Regions from separate parts of the Homo sapiens genome. Here regions 1 and 2 are each linked to region 3. Evidence: fine-mapped expression QTL. A gene starts in region 3. Each other region holds a variant in brackets. All regions are shown on one strand. Distances are from middle to middle.

The links. PIP is the estimated chance that this variant, and not a neighbour inherited with it, causes the effect.
Region 1: its variant is fine-mapped to the expression of NEK11 in Th2 cells (Schmiedel 2018, PIP 0.95).
Region 2: its variant is fine-mapped to the expression of NEK11 in whole blood (INTERVAL, PIP above 0.99).

What each region holds. Positions count from the first base shown.
Region 1 is chr3:130,901,528-130,909,718 of GRCh38, forward strand. The region is part of intron 2 of ATP2C1 (ATPase secretory pathway Ca2+ transporting 1); the gene reads left to right. Among named protein-coding and RNA genes, the nearest start is that of ATP2C1, 12 kb to the left of the region's middle. The variant G/GT (reference allele first, on the strand shown) is at 5,148.
Region 2 is chr3:131,082,476-131,090,666 of GRCh38, forward strand. The region is part of intron 4 of NEK11 (NIMA related kinase 11); the gene reads left to right. Among named protein-coding and RNA genes, the nearest start is that of NEK11, 60 kb to the left of the region's middle. The variant G/A (reference allele first, on the strand shown) is at 4,682.
Region 3 is chr3:131,022,282-131,030,472 of GRCh38, forward strand. It overlaps NEK11 (NIMA related kinase 11), which reads left to right and starts at 4,596. Exons shown (of 18, transcript NM_024800.5): 1 at 4,596-4,725; 2 at 5,649-5,721; 3 at 7,332-7,597. The coding sequence starts at 7,428. It overlaps ASTE1 (asteroid structure-specific endonuclease 1), which reads right to left and starts at 4,544. Exons shown (of 6, transcript NM_014065.4): 1 at 4,226-4,544; 2 at 3,193-3,313; 3 at 1,724-3,050. The coding sequence starts at 3,025. RefSeq lists enhancers at 4,196-4,435, 4,576-4,635, 4,716-4,905.

The DNA of each region.
Region 1 (8,191 bases), 120 kb before region 3:
ATACAGAGAATTAAGGGAATAGTTGAATCAGACATGACTGCAAGATGTCATTTGGGTCAGTGAAGGTGCCATTGATTGTGGTTGAAGGAGTGAGCCGATTTAGGGGCTGGCTGAAGGGAATATATAGGTCAGACTGTCATGATGTGAGGCTCATATAGCTATGCATGGAGAGAGGTGTTAAATCAAGCACCAGGATTCAAAGTGAGCTCTTGAAGGCAGAGACCTCAATTTGTCCTTTATTCATCTTGAACAGACTCTGGGACGTACCTACTGTCAATTGAATGAAAATGCTGGCTTCTTCCTTCTAAGTGGTTCTCATCTCAGGATTGTTTTGCCCCCGGGGGACATTTGGCAATGTTTAGAGAAATGCTGGGTTGTCACAACTCAAAGTATGCTACTGGCATCCAGTGTGTAGAGACCAGGGATGCTGGTAAGCATGCTACAATCCGTAAGACAGCATCTTCTACCTCCCCCCGCCACCCTCAAAATTTTTTAGCCCCAGATGTCAATGGTGCCAAGATTGAGAAACACTGTTCTAACAAACGGCAAGGAAGTTGACTCCTCTAAGCCTTGGTTTCCTCACTTGTAAAGAGATTATGACTACTTCAGGTTTGTTAGAATTAGACCAGGCAGGGTGTGTACAAGTGCCTGGCATGAAAGAGCCTCTCAGCAAATCCTAATTTCCCTTACCTTACTTGATGAATAGATTTAGGGGAGTTACTTTTGGTCTTTTAACTGCTAATTTCAAGGCTTCACGTTTTTTTTTTTTGTTTTTTTTTTTTTTTTTTTTTTTTTCTGAGAGGTGAGTGGGATGCCTAGGAAACATAGAGTAGCTTTTATAATCTTAATGCTTTTCTCATGGTTTTATCAAATTATGATTTTGATTATACTTTGGTTTGGGTTTGTACTATTTCAGGATTCAGTATTTAGTGTTCACCTAGCAGTAGACAATGAAGTTAAACCCTTAGTGTAGATCAATGAAGTTAAGCCCTTAAATTTTACTTTTTAGCCTGTAAATACATTTTATGTATTATTTATTGCTCACAGAACTGTTATTGTTTGGAAGCAATTTTACTATTCTTTGAAATCAAGACCAAAATGTACTGAATTTTATTTCTCATGGAAAATGCTAGACCTCCTATGTCTATTGCCTTTTTCCTTTTTATCCATTTATTCTAACTAGACCCCCCCCGAAGTCAGAACTCTTCCTTAGATTTCCTTTTTAGGGTCTTCATTAGGTGGCTTTCTTTTGCTTGTCGGGTGTCTTTTTACTTTATTTTGTAAGGTGTTGAATATTCCCTTTATTTTGTAAGGTGTTGAATGTTTCAGTGGTGTTAGGGACAGGACCACCGATATTTTCATCTCTAATACCAATCCCTTAGTGATCTATTCCAGTCATAGCCTCAGTGTTTAAAGTCTCCTTACATGTACATAGTTGTGTGGCATTCTCATTTTTAGGGAGTCACTGGAATTCTTTGCTGCTATTTCTTTCCTTTTAGGAAAAAAACCGGTTTACTCTTACTATACATTATTTTCTCCATCTATAGAATGGAATTACTGTAGGTAAAAGTCCTTGAGTTCGGTAAACTATGTATTGGACTTACTAATGTACGTTTTATTAATTGCAGGTGGAATTTAGAAATAACCTGCCTGTTTTTCATCTTAAACTAAGATTATTTAAATATTCCATTCATTAATTAGTTGGTTAGAAAAATTAGCTTTTGAGGAACACCACTTAAACATGGAAAATAATAACAGAGTACATTTTGTGACAGCAAATAAATTATCGGTTAACTTAACCCTATAGGATTCAAAGTTGGTAGCTTTAAATGATATTAAATTGTATTTGACTGTCAACTGCTTTTAAAGGCTTACGTGGCTCCCCATTGTACCTGTAGTTATTTAGGTCTGGAAGCACAGGGTGTTAAGAATGCCACCATAATGTCTTTTCATAAGGGTTTGGTTTGTCATAGCCTGTAAAATTAGGTTCACCAGTTAGCTGCTTTATGAAATGAATGTCATTGGTCATGGTGGGGGAGGTATTAGGAGAAGGTATAAAGGAATCTAAAAAAACTTTCTTTCTTTCTCTCCCTCCCTCCCTTCTTTCCTTCTGCCCCTTCCTCCCCCCTTTCCTTTCCTTTTTCCTCTTTCCCCTTTCCCATTTCCCCTTTCCCCTTTCCTTTCCTTTCCTTTCCTTTCCTTTCCTTTCCATCTTCTGTATTGCTAGTAAAATAATTGTTGCTCACTGAAGGCTTTAAAAAACACTGGTTGCATGCTTAATATAGGATGGCAACAAAATGGACGGGTTTAAAAAATATGTAGATGGTATGATACCCCTTTCCTCCATCCTTGTACCAAATTTCTTTCAAACCTAGAATAATTTATACAAACAGATGTATCAGTAGATGGAGTATTATGCCCACTTTTTAATTTAATGATCAAAAAATGCCAAATTCTTCCCAGAGTGGCAGTATAATTCAGATGTAGTTAACTGTTGGATGCAAATTCAATTATGGTAGAAAGATTTACTTTACTTTGAGAGGTTTTTCTAAAATCTTCTAAAATTATGTTGATTTTTAAAATTTGAAATAACTTTAGACTTACATAAAAGGTATAAAAATAGTACAAAGAGGTCCTGGATATCTTTTGCCCAGTTACTCCTAATGTTAACATCTTATATAACCATAGTATAATTATTAAAACCAGGACATTCACATTTATAAACTATCCTTTTTCTAGTTCAGGATCCAATTTGGGATCCTACCTTGCATTTAGTTATCATCATGTTAGTCTCCTCCCATCTGTTAAGCTTTTCAGTCTTTTTTTTCTCTCATCTTTTATAAATGTTACTGACACTTTTGAAGAGTACTGTTAGTTATTTTTTAGAATGTTTCTCAATATGGGGTTGTCAGATCTTCACCCGTGATTAGCATGTCTTATGATGGGTGAAGTTAATGTGATCACTTGGTTAAGGCTGTGTCTGCCAGATTTCTTCATTGTAAAGTTACTGCTTTTTCCTTTGTAATAATAAATGTTCATTTTAACCTTGTAGTTGTATAATAATTAGTAATTCCTTTGTAATTAATACCTTCCTCTAGTGGGGAGGTACTGCAAATATACTGTGTCCCATCATACTTATCATGGGCCAGTTTTGCAATATCCTGTGTTCCATCATACTTTACATGGGCAAGTTTTGCTATCTATCAATGGTTCTTAACTGGCAGCAGTTATTACTGCTTTGGTCTTTGCTTAATGGCGAGTTTTCTATTTCACTCATTCTTACTATATTTGGAATTCTACAATTAAGGAAGTACTGTCCTCTTTACTTATTAATTATCCAATTAATTTATTTACATGGCTTTGTGGATATTTTGCCTTATGGGTTAAAATCCAGTAATTGTTGCTCAAGTCATTCTCGCTTTGGTTATTGAGGGCACTTGAAAATTTGTTCCTGTGTCTTTTCTACAATACCCTCTCTCATTTTGTGAGCACTAATTTACTTTCTGGTATCACATGATGTTCTGGGTGTATCTTGTATTTTTCCTGCTTGCACCAGCCATGGAATCAACCATTTTTCCAGGGAGCTGAGTTCATTTTACTAGAGAATGATATCTAGAAACCAAGATCTGGGTGCCAGGTGTGCTCCATGCTACTGGGTGTCATTGCTTCTAGGCTCTCTTAGTAGATAGAGCTAGCAGTGTATATGTTTGGTAACATGTATGAACACATATGTTTTTATTTTCTTATCTATCCATCTATGTATATAAATAAAAAACTGCCAGTGATGCTGCCAGTTCTGTTCTTCCACCATAGGGTCCATTTTGGTCTTTTTTCCTGTTCAGCCCTTTTCTCTTTCTTTGTTACTTCCTTCTCCAAAGGTGAGAAACTGTTCTCAACCACAGTATATTGACTTACTTGTTTCATCCGAGTACACACAAACAAAAGTAGTTTTAGAATTAGTGACCTATTCATTCCCTGGTGAGAAACACAGTTTTAAACTAGAGTACAATATTTGTCTTTAACTTTATGGTATACAGGCAAATTCTGTTTTCAGAAGTTACTTGGGTTCTTTTCATCCCTGCCTAAGGGTTATGTTAGTCACTTGTAATAAAATTAGGTTCACTTGTTATTGTTTGTATGCTGTTTTAAGTTCCTCCTACATCCTGTTTCATCATAGCACAGTATCCCTCTCCCATTTATTTATGATAAAGATGTGTTCTTAAAAGGACTGGATTTGCTTAAGGTTGGGTACAGCTGTAATTGCTTTGCCAGACAGCAGTTAAAGGACATGTGCTTTGGCAATCATTCTCTTGGGCTTGCTTGCCTGGTTCCTTAGTTTCAGCTCTCATTTCTACATCGTTTACACTTGGGAATTGATATCAGCTGTGGCCCCATAACTGTCAGTGCTTGAAATCATGCCCATCGACTAAATCTTATTTGTTCTGTATGCACAGTTTTAGACCCGGAGCCACCTACAGTATGAATACTAATTCTCTCATAGCTGTGGTAAATCATGAAGTATTTTGTAGACCCTGTCCTTTACTGGGTTTTTCTTTTTCAAGATAGAATCACTTACCACAAAATTTGTCATTTTAAAGTGTATAATTCAGTGGTTTTTAGTATAGTCACAAAATTGTATATTGATATAATTCTAGAACATTTTTATCACCCCAGAAAGAAACCCCTTACCCATTAGCAGTCACTTCCCATTCTCCCCTTTCGCTAGCCCCTGGTAACCACTAATCTACTTTGTCTTTATGGATTTGCCTGTTCTGGGTATTTCATATAAATTGAATCATACAATATGTGACCTTTTATGTCTGGCTTCTAGCACGTGTTAGTACTTCATTTCTTTTTGCGATGAAATAATATTCCATTGTATGGATATACACATTTTGTTTATTCATCAGTTTCTACTTTTTGTCAAAAAATAACACTATTGTGAGCATTCATGTATGGGTTTTTGTGTAAACATGTTTTCAGTTTTTTCAGGTGTATACTTAGGAGTAGAAGTGCTGGGTCATGGTAATTCTATCTTTAATTTATTGAGTAACTGCCATAGTGGTTGAACCATTTTTTCATTCCCACTAGCAGTGTATGAGGCTTTCTTTTAATTAATTTCTCCACATCCTCTCCAACATTTTGCT[G/GT]TTTTTTTTTTTTTTTTCCATTGCATCCTAGGGGGTATGAAGTGGTTTCACATTGTAGTTTTGATTTGCGTTTCCCAAATGACTAATGATGTGTCAAGGATCTTTTGCATGGATTCTTCATGCAAAAGAATGAAGGTGGACTCTTATCTCACAGCATATGCAAAAATCATTTCTGCACTCTGACTTCTAATCTGTTGGTTTATAAGTCTTTGCAGATCCAAGTACCACAATGTTTTGGTTACTGTAGATTTTGCGATAAGTTAGTTTTGCAACTAGGAAGTGTGATGTGCTTATTGGTTATTTGTATATCTTTGGAGAAATGTCTATTCAAATCTTTTGACCATTTTGTAATTTGGTTATTTACTTTTTTGTTGAGTTGTAAGAGTTCTTTATATATATGTGTGTACACACACACACACACACACACATACGTTTATTCTGGATACTGGATAGGAATATATTCTATACTTGTACCAGTATACAAAGATGTTTACCTAAGAGTGTTCACTGCAGCAATGTTTATAAGATAATTATCAGAGATATGGTTTGTAAATATTTCTCCCATTCTGTGGATTACCTGTTCACTTTCTGAATGGTATCCTCTACATCAGAAACTTTTAAAATTGTGATGAAGTCCAATTTATATATGTGTTTCTTTTATTGTTTGTGCTTTATATATCTAGGAAACCATTGCCTGATTCAATGTGATGAAGATTATAAGAATTTTATAGTTTAACTCTCACGCTTGATCCATTTTGAGTTCATTTTTGCATATGATGTGACATAAGGGCCCACCTTCATTCTTTTGCATAGAATATCCAGTTATCCCAATACTGTTTGTTAAAAAGACTATTCTTTTTCCATTGAATGTCTTGGCACCCTTGTCAAAAATCAATTGACCAGAAATTATGGGTTTATTTCTAGACTCTGAATTCTATTCTGTTGGTTTATATGTCTTTGCTGATGTAAGTACCATAATGTTTTGATTACTGTAGGTTTTGTAGTAAGTTAATTTTGAAACTGGAAGTGTGAGACCTTTAACAGTGTCTGCCTTTCTTTTTTTTTTTTTTCAGATTGTTTTGTCTATTCTGGATCCCTTGCATTTCCATATGAATTTTAGAATCAGTTTGTCCATTTCTGTTAAAAAGGCAGTTGGAATTTTCATAAGCATTGCCTTGAATTGTCCTTTACTTTGAGAATATAATATTCTTACTTAGGTACAAACATAAGACTTTTTGAGTACTATGTTTGGGTGTGACCTTATTCTAGGTAACAAGCATTTCACAGAAATAGAAGGCCAAAAGGTACATGAAAAGATGTTCAACCTCAGTCATGAAGAAATGCAAATTAAAAACAAAATTATAATTTTTCACTTGTCAGATTGGCAAAGATTAGAGTGTAGTGATGACTAGTCTTGGCTAGACTGTGGGGAAAATAGAAGCTTCTGAGTTTGAAGTTTTTGACACAGTCCCTTTGGAGATCAGTAGCAGTAGCTATCAGAATAAAAAATATGAACAACCAAAGTTTCACTTTCAGAAATGTATTCTGTACCTGTACTTGCACAAATATACCAAGAAGTTTGTACAGGATGTTTACTGCAGCAACATTTGTAATACCAAAAGACAGGAGTCAGCCTAAATATCATCAAGAGGACTAGTTAAAATTGAAGTACTGCATACAATGAAATGCCCTGTGAGCCACTGAAAAGAATGAGGCAGGTTAGTATGTAAGGTGACATGGAGTCCAAGATGTATTGAATGACAAAATTTGTTATTGTGTGGTTCTATTAGAAATTAAAAAAAAAAAACACCAGAAATACTTGTATACACACCTGTATAGAAAATGGCTGGCAGTATACACAGAAATAGTTAACAGAGATTACTTCTGGGCAGTAGAACTGGAAATCTCATTAAATCCTTTCTCATTACTTGACTTTTTTTAAAACAATGAGCAGGTTTTTGTTTTCTGAAAAATCATTAAGAATGACTCAGTAGTGCAAGTAAAATTAAAATTAATACTACTCTTTAGGAATAAAATATTTGTTTTTTTCTGTCAGTTTGATTGTTTTATATATAATATCTGTTGGTCTCTAGAGCAGTTTGATTGTTTTGTATATAATCCCTGTTGGTATCCAGAGGTAAATGCATTTTATTGTGATTTTTATTGCTGTGTGGAAAATGGATTAGAATTAGTTCTTGGGTACAAATATTTAATAGTATTTGGAACCATATTTTTCATTTCTACATATTGTAAGTATGGGAGAAAAATAAGATTTATCTTTTAAGAGTTGTGATTGTGCTAGTTTTTAATTTATCAAATGAAGAATATTTAAGAATATTTAATTCTTTAAGTACAAAGAATATTTAAGAATACTTAAGAGCATTGAAGCCTGATTATGCCACTGTTCTTTGGGTTCATGCTCTGGAACTTAAGGTTCAGTGAAGAAGGTAACCATTTCATAGTATCTCCCTTAACAAAGGTTACTGATACATTTTCAGAAACCTTAGTACCACAGGCAGTAAGGAGGCAGTGAGATCCCTCTGGATTTTGCCAGACCATTCCTAGAATTTTTAAGGTGAGGGGACCAATTTCCCACCCCATATAGAAATGGCACCAACATCTCTCCTAGAAACTTCCTGGTGATTGGAAACTTTTTATCTGTTGATGCTGGTTCTGTCTTTAGGGAGAATGTCATGTTTCATGTAACATATCTTAAAATATTTGAAGATACCTGTCATATCCTTTATTTAGAAATCTTTATTGAAATCCAATTAATGGTCAGGTACTGCCCTTCATACTTCTCTAGGCCGAATATTCCTAATTCCTTCCACTGATCATCTTAAGACCTCATTTCCAGAAATGTCACCATAGTATGCCATGCTTGGTAGCAGGCTCTAATGATGCCCTAAACTGAATATAGACTTCTCAAGGTATGGTTGGATTGTTGTGAAATAGTCTAGGCTCATTGACTCGCTTGGACTAAAAAGCTATCTTTCTCATAATGCAGTTTAGGATAATGTTTACCTTTTTAGCAACAGGTTTAC
Region 2 (8,191 bases), 60 kb after region 3:
TGATGGAAATGGGCTATAGTTGTGCTGTCTAATATAGTAGTCGCTAGTCATATACATGGCTCTTTAGCACTTGCTGTGCGGATAGTGCAGTTGAGGGCCTGGATGTTAAATTTTATTTAAATTTAGTTAGTTTAAATTTAAATAACCATATGTGGCTCCTCGCTACCGTATTAGACATACATAGTATATGTTGCTATAACTTTCTTTCCCTGTATTAATTGAAAAAATTTATAATTTTAATGTAATTTTAAACTACCAGAAATGTTACAAGAGTAACACAATGAACTTCCATATGCCCTTTATCCAGATTCCCAAATTGTTATTTTTCCACATTTGCTTTATCTTTCTACCTACATTTTTTAATGAACCATTTGAGAATAAGTTTCAGACATGATGCTCCTTTGTCCTAAATATAATACAGCTGTGAGTATTTTCTAAGACCAAGGACATTCTTTTATGTAACCATAGTACAGTAATCAAAATCAGGAAATCAACAGTGATACAATGCTAGTATGAAACCCAGTGGTTCTCAAAGTGTGACCCCAGACCAGTATCATCAGCATCACTTGGGAACTTGCTAGAAATACAAATTCTTTGCCTCTACCCCAGCCAGCTGCATTGAATCAGAAATTCTGGGGGTGGGGTTCTGGCAATCTGTGTTTTGACAAGCCTGCCAAATGAGCCCAAAGCATACTGAATTTCGAGAATCACCCATCTAATTCACAGTCTATATTGTCTGAATTACATTCTTAGAAGGGACAGTTCTATAAGATTTTTGTTGTTGTTGCAGAGGATCTCATCCGGAATCATCTGTGTTGATTTTTAAATGATGGGTGGTTTCAGTGGGCTGAGCTGCTCTCCCGGGAGGGGCTGTTGCCATGGTGATGGCTGCTGGCAGTGCTGAGAGACAGCTGTGGGGCCGCCTGGGCTCTGTGTGCCACTGAGCTGGCAGGTTGCCACTTCCCTGGACTCCTGAGGAGTGACTTGCACAGATTGCTCCGTTCTTGTTAACAGAGATATTTCTCATCATCAGACCCAAATTTACTCTTAACTGGCACAGGGCTGGTGTTATCCTTTTTATTAAGGTAAAATAATAGTATAGGAAATGGCAGGTGACCAAAATTGCACCTCATAGAAAAATGCTATCACTACCATTGAAATGGCTTATCTCTTTATCTCCAGGTTCCCTCTTCTGTAATTTAATTTGGGGCCTTTCAAGACTGAAATATATAAATGCATTAGTGAGGCTTCTGCATCTACTACCTAACCCTTTGGACACATACATCAGATTATGAGTGTAAAACAGCAGACAACTGAACTCTCATAATTTCTGGTCAAGATTTAACCAAATCTTTGATGGGGAATAGTTCCAAAACTACCAGAATGGCAGAATATTTCAAATATTGGTGTCTTCTATTTTCCTCCATGTAGGAAGGAAATGGAACTACTGCCCATCCTCCACAGTTTCACACCTTTTCATCTTTGCTTAGGCCATATCCTCTGAGAATGCCCTTCCTCCTAGTCCCACATCTTCAAATCTTACCCTGACTCCCAGGCCCAGCTTAAATGCCACCTCCTCTCTCATAATCAAAGTTTCCAATAAACAAGGTTCCTTTCCCATAAACAAAGCCTCTCATAAACTCGTGGCTAGAAATCACTCCCCACCCCAATCCCAATCCCCTCAACTCTCACAGAATCTTTATCTCTCATGGTACAAAGCACAGTTTACATCATATGAGCCATGTCAGATTCTCAGCATGTGGGATTGATCTTTTTCTGATTCATTTTTCTATCACATCGTGGACCCACATAGTGAACCACAAAGAAGTTAGCACTCAAGATATTTTTTGATGTATTCTTTACCTCTTGGTTCCAGCTGCCTCCCACCTGATTTCTGTCAAACACTAATGGTAATGATAAAATATTGAATCCTTCTACCTGTTGTATATGTTAAAAGTATTTTGTCCTACCTTACTGTGCTGATATACCTAACAATGTGCTGCACTGGAGACCTGTGAGATACTGCCTGAAAGTCTTCCATTTGGGTGAAGACAAGGCATCTCCAGAAACCTAGGCATTAAATTAGTAGACACACTAGAGAATGGGTGAGATCACATATCTTCAGGAGAGGGTGGTGGTAGTGGTTGTGGTGGAGAGAACATATGATAGGGAAAAAGGCAGGAAATGTTGGACTTCTCTATTTTCTGCTTGGTGACATTAACATAGGTAAATAAAAATTTTATCAATGTAGTACTAGTTCTCAACATTGGCTGCATCTTAGAATCACCTGAAGAGCTATCAAAAATCCTGAGGCCTGAGGCCCACCTCTGGAAAGTCTGATTTAATTGATCCTCGGAAATGGCCCAGGCATCAGGGTTTTGAGAGTTCTCCAGGTGATTCTAAAATGCAGCCAGGGCTGAGAATGGCAAAATAAATAATTTTAAAAATTCAAAAGGAGAGAATAGTTAGTGTGGAAATAGACAAATAGTCATAAAGGAAAAATTTGTCATTATTGGTGGAGCACTAAGCAAAGATGAGGCCCAGAGCTGAGAACAAGAGAGTCTGGCCCTGTAGTGAGTGTAGTTTTATGATCAAGCCATTTAGCCTGTTGCTCTTATTCACGAAAATTGCACAACTTGTTCTCCTTGCTTCCCAGGCAACCTTCTGATCCTAATTTAGCTTTCCATATATGTCTCCTCTAATAGGAAAAAATATGCTGGCTAACCTGAGATGAGTTCCCTATTGCCTTGGCAGTTTTAGCTCTCATTGTGTATGAATACGTTGGCAATCTGGATTATTTATTGATGCCTTATGAACTTGAAGTTCACAATGGCAATTGTAATCAAGGGACTTTCCAAAAGCCATTACTGAGCCCCAGATCTGTGTCAGATACAATTATAGTCATTGTGTGGCATAACAGAGATAATATGATAATATTTAATGAATTTTCAGGTAGGATTAATGAGTCATTTATATCAGTTGCTAAAATACAAGGGGGAGTGTGGTATGTGTTATGGGAAGGGTATGGTTAAAGTGCTGTGGGGGTAATAGGAGAGAGAAATGACTTCTGACCATGGGAACCATGAAGGGGCTAGCATTCTATTTGAGTTCGCAGTACGGGAAAGATTAGGCCAAGAAGAATAGAGCAAGGACATTTCAGCTAAATGGAATGATGTGATAAAAGGCTCAGAGGTAGAAAAGCATGGGATGTGATTTAGGAACCCAGTACTTCACCTTTAATTGTAATATGTTTGCAGTTAAATACATTCCCTAATTTTAACAACTTATATAATCATAGTATAATTATCAAAACTAGGAAAATTAATATTTTACTAGTTTTCCCCTTTATGCCTTTGGTCTATTCTAGGATCCAATCCAGGATTCTACATTGCATTTAGTTCTATTTCTTTAGTCTCCTCTAATCTGTGACAATTTCCCTTTCCTGCCTTGTTTTTTATGAATTTGACACTTTTGATGGGTAACTGGCAAGCTATTTTGTAGAATGTCTCTCAGTTTGGGTTTGTCTAATGTTTTATCACGATTAGATTGAGGTTACATATTCTTGGCAAGACTACTACAATAGTAGTATTGTATTCTTCTCAGTACATCATATTAAGGGGTACCAGCTGTATCTTATTACTGATGATGTTAACTTTGATCACTTGGTTAAGGTTCTGTCTTGTGGGGTTTTTCACTGTAAAGTTACTATTTTTTCCCTTTGAAATTGATAAATATCCTGGGTAAGATAGTTTGAGAGTTTTCTATTAATAATAGCCTGTTTCTTTTCAAATCTTCACTCATTAATTTTAGTCTCTTTCAGTGAAGTTGCCTGTGGCGATTCTTACTCTCTATTCTTTACCTAATTGTGATTATATATTTCTCTCATTCTTTCTGTATTTACTAATTGGTATTCCACTGTAAGGAAGAGCTGCTGCTTCTCCTCCATCCATGTATTTTTTCAGTTATTTATTTATATTAGTATGAACTCATGGATTTTAAAATATTATATGGGTTACACCCAGTACCGTCACTGTTTATTTTGTTGCTCAAATTGTTCCAACTTTGGCTAATGGGGTTCCTTCAGATTGGCTCCTGTGTCTTTTTAACATGCCCCTATCCTTTTTTGAGGAGAAGTAAATTCTTGCTTATTAATTCCATTTTACAGATGAAGAAACAGGACCCCAGAAAGTGGAGTGATTTTCTGACTGTTAAATCCAGGGCAGAACTAGGACCAGGGGTATTGGGATAGATGCTCCTTTTCTTGGCTTATTCTCAATTATTTTCAGTGTCTTTATCCATCTCTATTTCTATAATACATATACATATTCACATAAACTATTTGTACACAAATGCAAATTTTAATGTGATGATATGATTATTTTCTCTCAATGGAAGACTAGATAAGGTTTTAAATAGTGGGAAGTGTGTAGACTTTGGCATCTCCTATTCAAATCTTTGTCCATTTCCTTCAGCAAATTATTTCATTTCTCTGACCCGTTTTTCTTAAGAGAGTATAACATATATTTTGTTTTTATAGGGATTTGAAATAATGAATGTTGAAAAAGTGACTATCAGAGCTTTTCTCCTAGTAGATTTTCAATAATGAAAGTTATTATAATTGTTCGTTATTTCACTGTTACTCACCCCCCTTTCCTCCCTCCGGCTGTTTTCTAGAAGTAAA[G/A]CTAGTTTTTACCTCTGAGATTTTGTCGTGCAGCCTTTAGTATGAGGATTCATGCCAAAAGGAAGAAATATGCAAATTCTTTTTTTTTTTTTTTTTTTTTTTGAGACAGAGTCTCACCTCATTGCCAGGCTGGAGTGCAATGAATGGCACAATCTCAGCTCACTGCAACCTCTGCCTCCCAGGTTCAAGCAATTCTCCTGCCTCAGCCTCCCGGGTAGCTGTGACTACTGGCGCGTGCCACCACGCCCAGCTAATTTTTGTATTTTTAGTAAAGATGGGGTTTCTCCATGTTGGCCAGGATGTTCTCCATCTCCTGACCTTGTGATCCGCCCACGTCAGCCTCCCAAAGTGCTGGGATGACAGGCGTGAGCCACCGTGCCCGGCCGCAAATTCTTAACCACTAATAGGCCTGCTAGTAACTTTGAGGCAAGTACTTTCCGAACTGATTGTACTATAAAACGGAACATTTGAAATTTCCTCATATGTTTCTTTTTTATGCAAAAGTATTTAAACAAACCAAGTAAGCGGGTTGAGTTTTGCAATCTTGAATCTCTAGTGCGTGTCAATAGACTATTAGAAGTAAATTTGGCAATGACGTGCAGCCACCAGGCTTACTAGTTCTCAGAGGGTCCTTGTAGAACTTCATATTGGGTGTGTTGTGTCTAGTATTAGAAACAAATCCTTTTCTGTGCTTCAGAACAACTGCTTATAGTCCTGAAGCCTGTTTGGGACCACCACCCCCCAGAATTGGTTATTTATAGATGAGGAACACCCCTGGAATTTGACCATTGTGACATTGATTGGTGATCATCCTTCCTACTGTGAACTCAAATCAGGCATCCACACATTGGGGCTGTCCACACCTCAGGACTGTCTTCAGTGGTTTGCATTGCTGGGATTGCTGCTGATTGAAGGAACTAAGCATTGTTTTCAGAGTGGTGGGTCCCATCGGGGCCCTCTGATTTTCCTGGGCAGCTCCATCTAGGAGTAGGTAGGCCTCCCTGAATTTATCCTGTGTCAATTCTATGGGTCTAGATTTTGTCCAGTTGGGGAAGGCTGTAAATAATACGAGTGTCTAATGTTTTTATATACCTAAACTGATCCATTTGTGATTTTTATAAGTATCAAAATTAAAGTCATTTGGTTTGTTCCATTTACTTTCTTTCTTAAACTATGAAATATTTTGACCTTTTAATGAAAAACAATAAAAAATAAGACCACTGATTTTTACCTAAAATTGTTAAATCTAACAATTGAAAAGCAAGACTAGTTTCATTGAAAAGAAATGCACTAATGCACTAATAGAAAGCAATCTGCAAACCCAGTAGAGTTTATGACATTTGGGGTAAGGCTTTAGCTGTCATATGAATTTATATAAATACAAGTGTTTAAAAATAGAATCACACTAATTTATTTCAAATGGTTTTTTTTTAAAAAACCCTGTGCTTTATAGATAAAAGCATTATTTCACATTATTTCATATCACCTAAGAATAAGTTCTGCCATTTCTTATTCATCTACATTTACCTCAGCAAAAAGAACACTATCTCTAAAAGAATTTGAAAAAAATACTAACTAAACTCAAGATGTTCATTTATATTATTAGAAATGAAAATCATAATACTGCATGGCATTCTTCAGTACCTATTTAGAAGCTGGTTTTTTTCTTGTTTTGCTTTTAAGAGCATAATGTGGCTTGACATTTCCCCCACGTTTTATGCAGTCTCTTAAAGTGCACTTCCAAAATTCTAGGAAAATGTCCTTGGGTTGTACAATATAATGACAAAGGATCTCCTCCCTCACTGCCTTTACCTCCATTTATTGGTATTCTCCTAAGTAATGAAACAGAGTTTCAAAAACATGTTATTGTAAAATGACTCTTATTCAGCCCTGCCTTTCTCAAGTACATCTTTTGCCTTTGGAGTTGTTCAAATTTTAGACAAAATGTTTCCACTGACAGGCTAAATATTAAGTACATGGCCTGTTTATATTATTGCCTAGCATCATGCCTCAAAGTTTGTTCCATGGACCACCTGTCCTAGAGTCACGAAGGATGCTTGTTGAAAATACAGATTCCTTGGGTCTATGTGGATTTACTGAGTTGGAGTTATTGTTGCTAATGTCTAGGGATATGCATTTTAAACAAGCAACTTGGAAGATTCTGATGTATAAAATTTGAGGTCCACTGGAAGGATGCTTATTTAATGGAGATATGGTAGGCTATGAAGAACAGCATTTAAAATGTCAATCCAGTGAATTAATAAGGGAAGCTTTTTCATTATTTTATTTTGTTTTATTTTGCGATGGAGTCTTGCTCTATTGCCCAGTCTTGAGGGCAGTGATGGGATCTTGGCTCACTGTAACCTCTGCCTCCTAGGTTCAAGTGATCCTCCTACTTCAGCCTCCCGAGTAGCTGGGATTACAGGCATGTGCCACCACGCCTGGCTAATTTTTGTGTTTTTAGTAGAGACGGGGTTTCATCATGTTGGCCAGGCTGGTCTCGAACTCCTGACCTCAAGTGATCTGCCTGCCTTGGCCTCCGAAAGTGCTGGGATTACGGGCATGAGCCACTGCACCCAATCTGCATTTACTGAGTCAGAGTTATTGATGATAATGATAATGATAGTTGATGATAATAGGGATATGCATTTTAAACAAGCAACTTGGAAGATTTTGATGCATAATATTTGAGGTCCACTGGAAGAATGCTTATTTAATGGAGATATGGTAGGGTGTGAAGGAAGAGCATTTTAAGTTGTCAGTCCAGCGAATTAATAACGGAAGCTTTTTCATTTTAAAATAAAAAGCAGGACAGAATAATTTTTGAAGTTCCTTTTAGCCTTAAACATTGCAGGGGTTTTTTTGTTTTTGTTTTTGTTTTAAATTCAGGCTTCTGAGAATGCTCTTCTTTTGTCTTTTAAGGTTGTAAGTGCTTTGATTGCCAATGTTAATACAAGGATTAATTTTTAAAATCAAATCCTTTTAGGATTTAAAATTTGATAATAACGATCAAAGGTGGGGTTAAGAACACTGAATTTGGGTTGTTCTTCATTTCTTTAAAGCCTCGACATTTCAAAGGCAATCTGTCATTGGCTAACTGGGATGGTGAAAGGAGGAGATACTATTAATCCATCAAATGTTACAGTTTGGGTTACAGATTTTCAAAACCTTAGAAGTTAACATCAAGTCTTTTATTGCAACCTTCAAGGGATAATCTTAGTGAAGGAAAACATTTTTTGATAGCTGTATAGACTTAGGGCAATATTAATTTTGGGTCAGTTAAAGTCAATACATTTTTCATGAAAGTTATTTTAGCAATAAAAGTCACTATTAAATATTTCTCAAGGACAAAGTTAAGAAAACAGAATATACTTACAGATATTGTAATAAGAATTTCTTAGACCAACGCATTACATTTCATCAAAAACATTAGCTTTTTACTTTAAAGACAGCTTAGAGAAAGAAAGTAATGCTTTTCATATTGCTGAGTTAAAATCAGACTAAAAACTG
Region 3 (8,191 bases):
TCTAACTGAGGTATAATTCATATGTCATAAAAGTCATCCTTTTAAAGCATACAATTCAGTGGGTTTAGTGTATATATATTTTTAGAGACAGGGTTTTGCTCAACAGGGAGCACAATCATAGCTCACTACAGGCTTGACCTCCTGGGCTCGAGCAATCCTCCAACCTCAGCCTCTTGAGTAGCTGTACCACCATGCCTGGCAAAAAATTTTTTTTTTTTTTTTTAGTAGAGACAGTCTTGTTGTGTTGCCCAGGCTGGTCTTGAACTACTGGCCTCAAGTGATCCTCCCACTTTGGCCTTCCAAAGTGCTGGGCTTACAGGCATGAGCCATCTTGCCTTGGTTTAGTATATTTATAAACTTGTGCAGCCATCACTAATTCCAAAACATTTTCTTCACCCCCAACCAAAGAAACCCTGGGGGTTTAACAGTCACTCGCCAATGCCAAGAAGGCTCTTGGACTCACTGCCCAATGCCAAGAAGGCTCTTGCACTCATTCACTATGACATTCATCTCCTCCTGTCTGAGATGTGACTGAAGAGGAGGCTAAGAGGCTAGTTCCTGGTCAGCTGTATAGCCCAGGGAATGGCACTACTGATATTTTGGGCTAGAGATTCTTTGTTATGGGACACTTTCCTGTGCACTGTAAGACTTACAGGTTGTAAAATTTAGCAGCATCTTTGGCCTCTCCCCACTAGATACCGATAGCAACCACTACCCCTTCTACTCCCTAGGTAGGGACAACAAAAATGTCTCCAGGCATTGCCAGATGTCCTCTGGGGGACAAAATCACCAATGGTGATAAAGCTTTGGTGTAGACTGATAACAGTGCTGGGAGAACTCTGACAGAAAAGGAAGACCTGACTTAAATCCACTGGGAAGCTGTGGTTGCCGTCCTACATCCTTAAGTAGACTGGTGCCACGTGTGGTCTGTGAGTTTTGTGAGACTGAATATTTCATTGGATCTAAGAAGATCCCCTAATGGGCATTGCAATTGTTTTTTTTTTAAGTTATCTCTATTTAATGTCTAAATCTAGTTCTTTTATCAGCATAGTTTCATATCTATTTGTAATTTTAAATATATATGTAATATAAAAAGACAACACTGGGATCCATGAGAATTTTTTTCTCCTTGAAAAGGTGGTCTGGGTGTTACTCAGGTTTAAGCAACACTAAGTTAGACTAAGAGTCATGTTTTCTGTATCAAACTAGGCAAATAACCATAATGACACAAAAACCTATTTTAAAAAAGGTATTCATTAATAAAAGTTAAAAAATTAGACCTTAGCATCAGTACTAACCTTATCTGAAATCCGATGTAGTCTGAGATGTTGTGCCTATGATTAGTGTCTATACACTTTTTTTGCAGTTGTGAATTTTTTTCCTTTTTTTTTCAGCCACGTAACCCATTCTATTGATAGCTAGTATTAACCTGGTAGTAATAACAATATAGTAGTAATAACTGTGACGATAACACAGACTACTGAAGTACAGTGGAAATGGTAGATTTAGAGCTAAAAGAGCTAGGTTTGAGTCCTAGCACTGACACTTTCTGGCTAAGACATTACCTAGTTCACTCAAGTTCTAGATTTCTTAGCTACGACATGAGGGCAAGATAGCACTCAACCTCATCAGTTTGTTATAGTAAGTGAACTAATATAGAAGACAGCACTTTGTATCCTGTAAAGTACTTTACAAAAATTTCATTAGTATTACAAATACTTACCTCAGTCAATCTGCTTAAGTCAGAATGATCCTTGGCCAGTTCTACTGCATCAATGATTGAGGTTCTGATATTTTTATTAATCCTTTCCACTTCACTGAAAGCTAGAGGCTGAGGAGGCAATGCATTCCAGGATGTCTTGTCCAGATGTGGTGAGGCATTTAAAAGAAGCCCATAGATGATTTGCCTGATGGGCTGAGATATTCTGTGGGCATTTGGTTGCTGCATGTTTTCCACCTGTGTGGGAAGAATGGTCCGTCTTAGGACCAAAGCATCACTGATGAAAGGAGATAGCTGGCCTTTAGCTAAAGCCACTAATACCCATTCTGGTAAACCAAGATTCAAGGCATCTGGACAGACATAAGTACCACACTGGAAGAAGTCCTGTAGCTTCACCTGGGACTGTTGGTATTCTTCCATGGAACAGCAGAGAAGTTCCTTAACATTTTCTCGATCCTTTTTTGGGAGGTATTTCAGAACATTATCTAGTGCTTCGGTAGGGTTGGCAAAATGAGACAACCAATTCAGAAGTCCCAGGATTCGGTGGTGTCTCCTCCCTTTAGAACTGGTAGCTCCAAGAGGAAGACGCGCTTTACTTAAGAATGTCTCCATGATGGGTAGATTAACATGGTCATTTCCACATAGCACCGCAAAGAGAGGTAGTAGAGCTTTATTCATATTGCTGAAGTGATGGCAGAATGCATCAAGGGAAAAGCATTTGGCAGGGATATAGTTTTGTGTGCCCTTAATAGTGTTCATATTTCTCCACTGAAAGCTATTCAATGGGCAAAACCCAGTTTTCAGGTCAAAAATGCAAAAGTCACTATCTGATGATAACACAGGGCAATTCCAATGGTTAGCAAGTGTCATAATGTCCCGATCTGCTTCTGAAAAGCACTGGACAAAACACACCCGCAGCTTGATCAAAACCTGTATGAATACTTCCCGGATGAGTAAGGGACATACGTACCCACTCCCACCAACAGAAAGGGAATGGGCCATCTGGATCTTCTCTCTAGCTCTATCCTTTAAAGTTGTAAGCTTTTTATCTGAAATGTCACATCCTCCATCTAATACAACATATGGGCATATATTACAAGCAAACAGTGATTCAAAGAATTTTTGTACAACATCTGCAAAAGAATCATAGTCCCCTCCATACCGGAGATCCAAGTTTGAACTGAAGCAAAGACGGTGGAAAAGAGCATAACCATCAATGACAATTTTTGTGTCCCGCAACTTCAAATCAGTGAAGAACTCATTACTATGATCTTCCACAAAACTCATTAGTCCTCGGATACCCATGATGACAGTCTAAAGAATTAATCGCCTGTTTAAAACAACAGAAAACATTTTCAATTGATGCTAGTTATGGGGCACCAAGTCATTGCTTCCAGCACCATTAAATCAATAGCAAATGTTATGAAGTGCTCTTTAGATAGAACATAGATATCAACATCATAAATTCTTACCTAGATCCTCAAGCAATGTTAGCTGTGCTTTTTCATTCTCCTTTGCTTTCTGATACAAGGCACAAATTCAATGGTTTCATGGGTTGTAATCTTTGGATGGTGACAGAGGCTGCTGCTAATTCTAAAGAAAAATCAGTTGAAGTCCATTACTGACACACCAGTATAGAAGTTCTGTGAACTTTGATTCTTAAGTGGTAATAGTCAACATCTTACAGCACAGAGTATTTGTTTTGTGGGGTCAAAGTAAAAAGTCCTAAGCTAAAAAAAAGATATCATATTCATCTCATAATCACAAAGCATTTGGGCTTCAGTAAAGTAAGGTGTGTAGGACCTATGATAAGGATCAAGTTTTTCTTTTGTATTGACAATCAGTCACGGAACTTCTTTCAGGCTTTGGATTTGTGGGCCCTTCTTAATTGGCATAGTTTTTGGTATAAGGAAAACTGCTTCATGCCTCTAGGAACCCCTCTATCCAGTTACACCCCTAACCACGAGCTCTTTTCATCATCTTATTTTGCATATCTGGCCCAGCTACGCTTCCTCACCTGGCTAACTTAACTCGCAGGATCAGAATTGATGGTTTTTCTTTTGACACCTCGGGCTTCAATATGGCACAGCACGGTACTGTTACTATTACTTAAAATCGTGACATTTTGTCAGTCATGGATTTTTTTTGCTATAATTTTGATTTTTAGAGATTGCATTAAAACTTACCTTGATTACTGAATTTTATTGGCATCCATTTACATTTTACACTTATCTCACCCTAGTTCCAGCCCTGTCAGTATCTCAGAACCTTATCCTGTATAGTACTTATTTCTTTGCAAGATAGTTTTGTAAAGCGTCCATAAGCAGAGACTGTGTCAAGGCGTCCTACGCAAATTACAGGACCTTGCACAGACAGTTGCATAGAGCTGCATAGGGGAAAGGCGGGCAAAAGGTCTGACCTAAGTCTTCAAACACAGGCCTTCATACACCGTGCCACCTCGGCCCTCACAACCCGCCGCCCGGACCTGCAGCAGAGCCCACCTACTCTGTCCTCCCAGAGGAGTAGCTCCTCCATCAGAAGCCCGCTAGAGCCCAGCGAGGACTGGCTCCTGCACGTGAGAGTCCAATCTCAAGAGCGGGAATCGGAAGTCTCCCGGTGTGACGTCTCTGGGAAGTACAGTTCCGTGATGCCGGTGGCGCCAGACTGAGCCAAGGAGCAGGTGTTCTCGGGCCCAGAGGCGCTAAGTAGCTAAAGAGGGCTGGGACGTACGTTCCGAAATGGCTGCTGTCAGGCTAGGAAAGCTTGGCCCGCCGGTCCTCCTCTGCTTTCTCCGCCTACTTGGGTCGGCGAACACTTCCGCCTTGGTGCCGCCTCGCCCCGACTTCCCAGTATGCCCCGCGCCGTCTCCCTGGCCACGGTTCCAAACAGCCGTGGCCCGCGGTGTCTGGCGCTCGGTGGGTGTGGTTGCCCCTAGTTTGAGGCCTGCCCGATTACCCGCAAGACTTGGGCAGCCCCGGGCGCCGCTCCGACCACGACAGGGAAAGGTAAAGCGAACTGTCCTCCTTGGGGCTAGCCAGGCTCCCCTGCGAGGGGGAAGGTAATGGTTTCAAGCTGCCCGGGCTGGGTTCCGAATCTCTAGGACGCCATGGCTGCGATCTCCTCGCTTTCCTGGACATCTTACCTCCGGATGTACTCCAGTCTCAGTGCCCCTCAATAAACGTTAACCTGCTTTGCCAAAATGTAAATGTTTAAAAAGGTGAAGAAGCAAGGAATTGTTCGTTTTACCTTAAGGTTAAGATTTACTTTAAAGGTAGATTTGTGCTGTAGCAGAAACTGGTGACAAATTGCCTTCCTCTTATTACCTGGGAAGATAACTACTGGTTTTCAACTTGTGATAAATACTCCTTCCGTTGTCTTTTGCCCCCAGCCAGATCTGTTTCACCGAGAACGGGTAGTTTGCACAAGGTAGTAACTTTCTCCAAGTTCCCATCTAGCTTTCTTAACTAACCTTTTTTCTCTCCTTTGGGCGGCAGTTGATCTGCTGGACACTTACTTGCCTTAACAAGGTTTGTTAAACACCTAGTATATGCCAGGAGGTATGCCAGGGATTGGGGATGCAGAAATAAAGAAGATGTGTTCGCAGTGCCCAAGTTCACTCAAACCTCGAGGGGGAGCGTGTTGTCAAGTGAACAGATAGTTCTAGAATCTAGACAATGCGACACATTCTTGGGTAGGTTTATGGTTGCGCAGAGGAGACTAATGGAATGGATGACCTAAAAGTGGACTGGGATGGGGGTGGCAGGGCTGAGTCTGTGAGGGTGGGCGGGAGGGAACCTAGTCCCAGAGTCTTCTGCAGCCTGGACCAGACTACTTAAGCACTGCTGGGTTTAGACTGTCCTTTAAAATAAGAGCCGCTAGAAGTGAACTTCTCATTCTGTCCGTCCCTAATTCTGTCCTTCTCTAAAAGGAACCTTAATCTCATCTTTAAAATAAGGAGAATTACTGAGTGACCTGAAGGACCCTTTTCAGCTGGAAAGTCTGTAAGTCCATATATTTATTTGAACAGCTTAGTATGGCCAGACGGCATCACTTTTATGACAGTGAAGGGGAAGTAAAAACAAAAGGTATATTTAGAGGCCTGCTCTGTAGTTGTTTTTCCAGCAGATTTTACTAACGTGTCTTTGGAAGGGAAAAGAAAAAGCTGGTAACTAATCTCACTGGTATTAGGTACAACTTAACTGATTCATACATTTTAAGAAGGAAAATGTTGTAAATGGGCATTTACTTATGTTCTGTTTTGAGGATTTTTGTGGTTAATTGCCCTAGTAGTTTTTGTGGTTGACGGACACCACCACGTAAAGCCCATTGACCATCCTTAAAAACTAGGTTTTTGTCTCATAGCTTTGGAATTGTTGAATATGAAAACCTAACTTCAAGGTGTAGGCAGTTTTCAATTTAAAATGTTATTTCTATATAGATTTAAAACAAAAGCACACTTTTCTTGATAACTAACAAAACATTTAACATTCTGATGAAATAAAAGTGATTTTACTTTGTACCTACTCATATGAAACAGTCCTGCCTTTCTTTTTTTTGTTTTTGTTTTTGTTTTTGTTTTTGTTGAGATGGAGTCTTACTCTGTCGCCCAGGCTGGAGTGCAGTGGCGAGATCTCACTGCAAGCTCCGCCTCCTGGGTTCACGCTATTCTCCTGCCTCAGCCTCCCGAGTAGCTGGGACTGCAGGCGCCCGCTACAATGCCCGGCTAATTTTTTTGTATTAGACGGGGTTTCACCGTGTTAGCCAGGATGGTCTCGATCTCCTGACCTCGTGATCCGCCCGCCTTGGCCTCCCAAAGTGCTGGTACTACAGGCGTGAGCCACTGCGCCCGGCCTAAACAGTCCTGCCTTTCATAACTGCCACGTCTCATAGCTCCCTGAGGAATTACAGATTTATCTGTAGCATTTATATTCCACTGACATTAAATGGGATTTTAGGTTTGAATTGAATTTGTAACTCTTCCTGTTTTTAATCCAGAGAGATTATACACAATGTGTACAATAGGAACTTCAGAAACTAGAATTTGCTGAGCATGGGAAAAAATTCTCAATCCTTATCCTTCTTTGCATCTGTCCTAATAAATACAAAAACTGTGGTTTAACATCTACAGAAAAAAATAAATCTAAAGGAAACAGCACCTGCTAATTCCTTGTTTAATCCTAACTCACTCTTTGTAAACCAAAGTAAATATAAGGTGAGAAGAGGGCATTACAAAAAGGTTGATGCAGATGTATAGATTTAAGGAGGTGATAATGTTCTTGTATTTGGATTCTTTTATAAGTAGTTGGGGAGTATAAATCTTAAATAAATGAAGAGATTGCTCATTGTAAAACAGATGTACATCCCAGAAATTTGTGGAAAGTTGGCTATAATTCACTTCTGCCAAATTTCAATGTACAAAGGGAGGCTCTTCCTGTGAAAGATTGCCTTCTGGAATTTGTGGTATCTCTACCTTTTAACATTTTTTTTCAAGTTGTTAACCAATATGGTGTCAGTCTGCTGATCAAGGTGCAGATATCACTGCACTTAACACTTTTTGTTAGACATCGTTTAGCAACCTTTAGACCTGATCTTTTAACTTTTCATCTTTAAGGAACTGACCAACACTGGATGAATTTGACCATTTCTTAGGAGACTGGAATGTTAAGTTTCTATAAATGAATGAACCAGTTCTCTCTTGTTTGGAGCAATGCTGAAATTCCAAGAGGCAGCTAAGTGTGTGAGTGGATCAACAGCCATTTCCACTTATCCAAAGACCTTGATTGCAAGAAGATACGTGCTTCAACAAAAACTTGGCAGTGGAAGTTTTGGAACTGTCTATCTGGTTTCAGACAAGAAAGCCAAACGAGGAGAGGAATTGTAAGTAAAAATGCTTCCTATGAATCTTGAGTAGGCTGCTTTTTGTTTGCAGGTCTTAGCTGATTAGGAACATGGAGCAGGCCAGGTATGGTGGCTCATGCCTGTAATCCCAGCACTGTGGGTGGCCAAGGTTGGCAGATCACTTGAGGCGAGGAGTTCAAGACCAGCCTGGCCAACATGGCAAAACCCTGTCTCTACTAAAAATACAAAAATTAGCCAGGCAGGGTGGTACATGCCTGTGATCTCAGCTACTTGGAGGTTGAGGCACAAGAATTGCTTAAACCCAGGAGGTGGAGGTTGCAGTGAGCCGAGATCATGCCACTGCCCTCCAGCCTGGGCAACAGAGCAAGACTGACAAAAAAAAAAAAAGAACATGGAGTAATGTCCACTTTGCTCTTTATACCAAAGCAAGTATTTCATAAATATAGGTAAGCTCCCTAATTAATCTTTCATATTAGGTTTAAAGGCATTTCAGCAGGTGAATAAAGTATCCAAATGACCTAAAGAAGGGAGCTAGAAATGGGATAGATTATGTGAAAATAAGATGTTTGGGCATGCCACAGTCTCAGTGACAATATTACTTCCACTTAACTT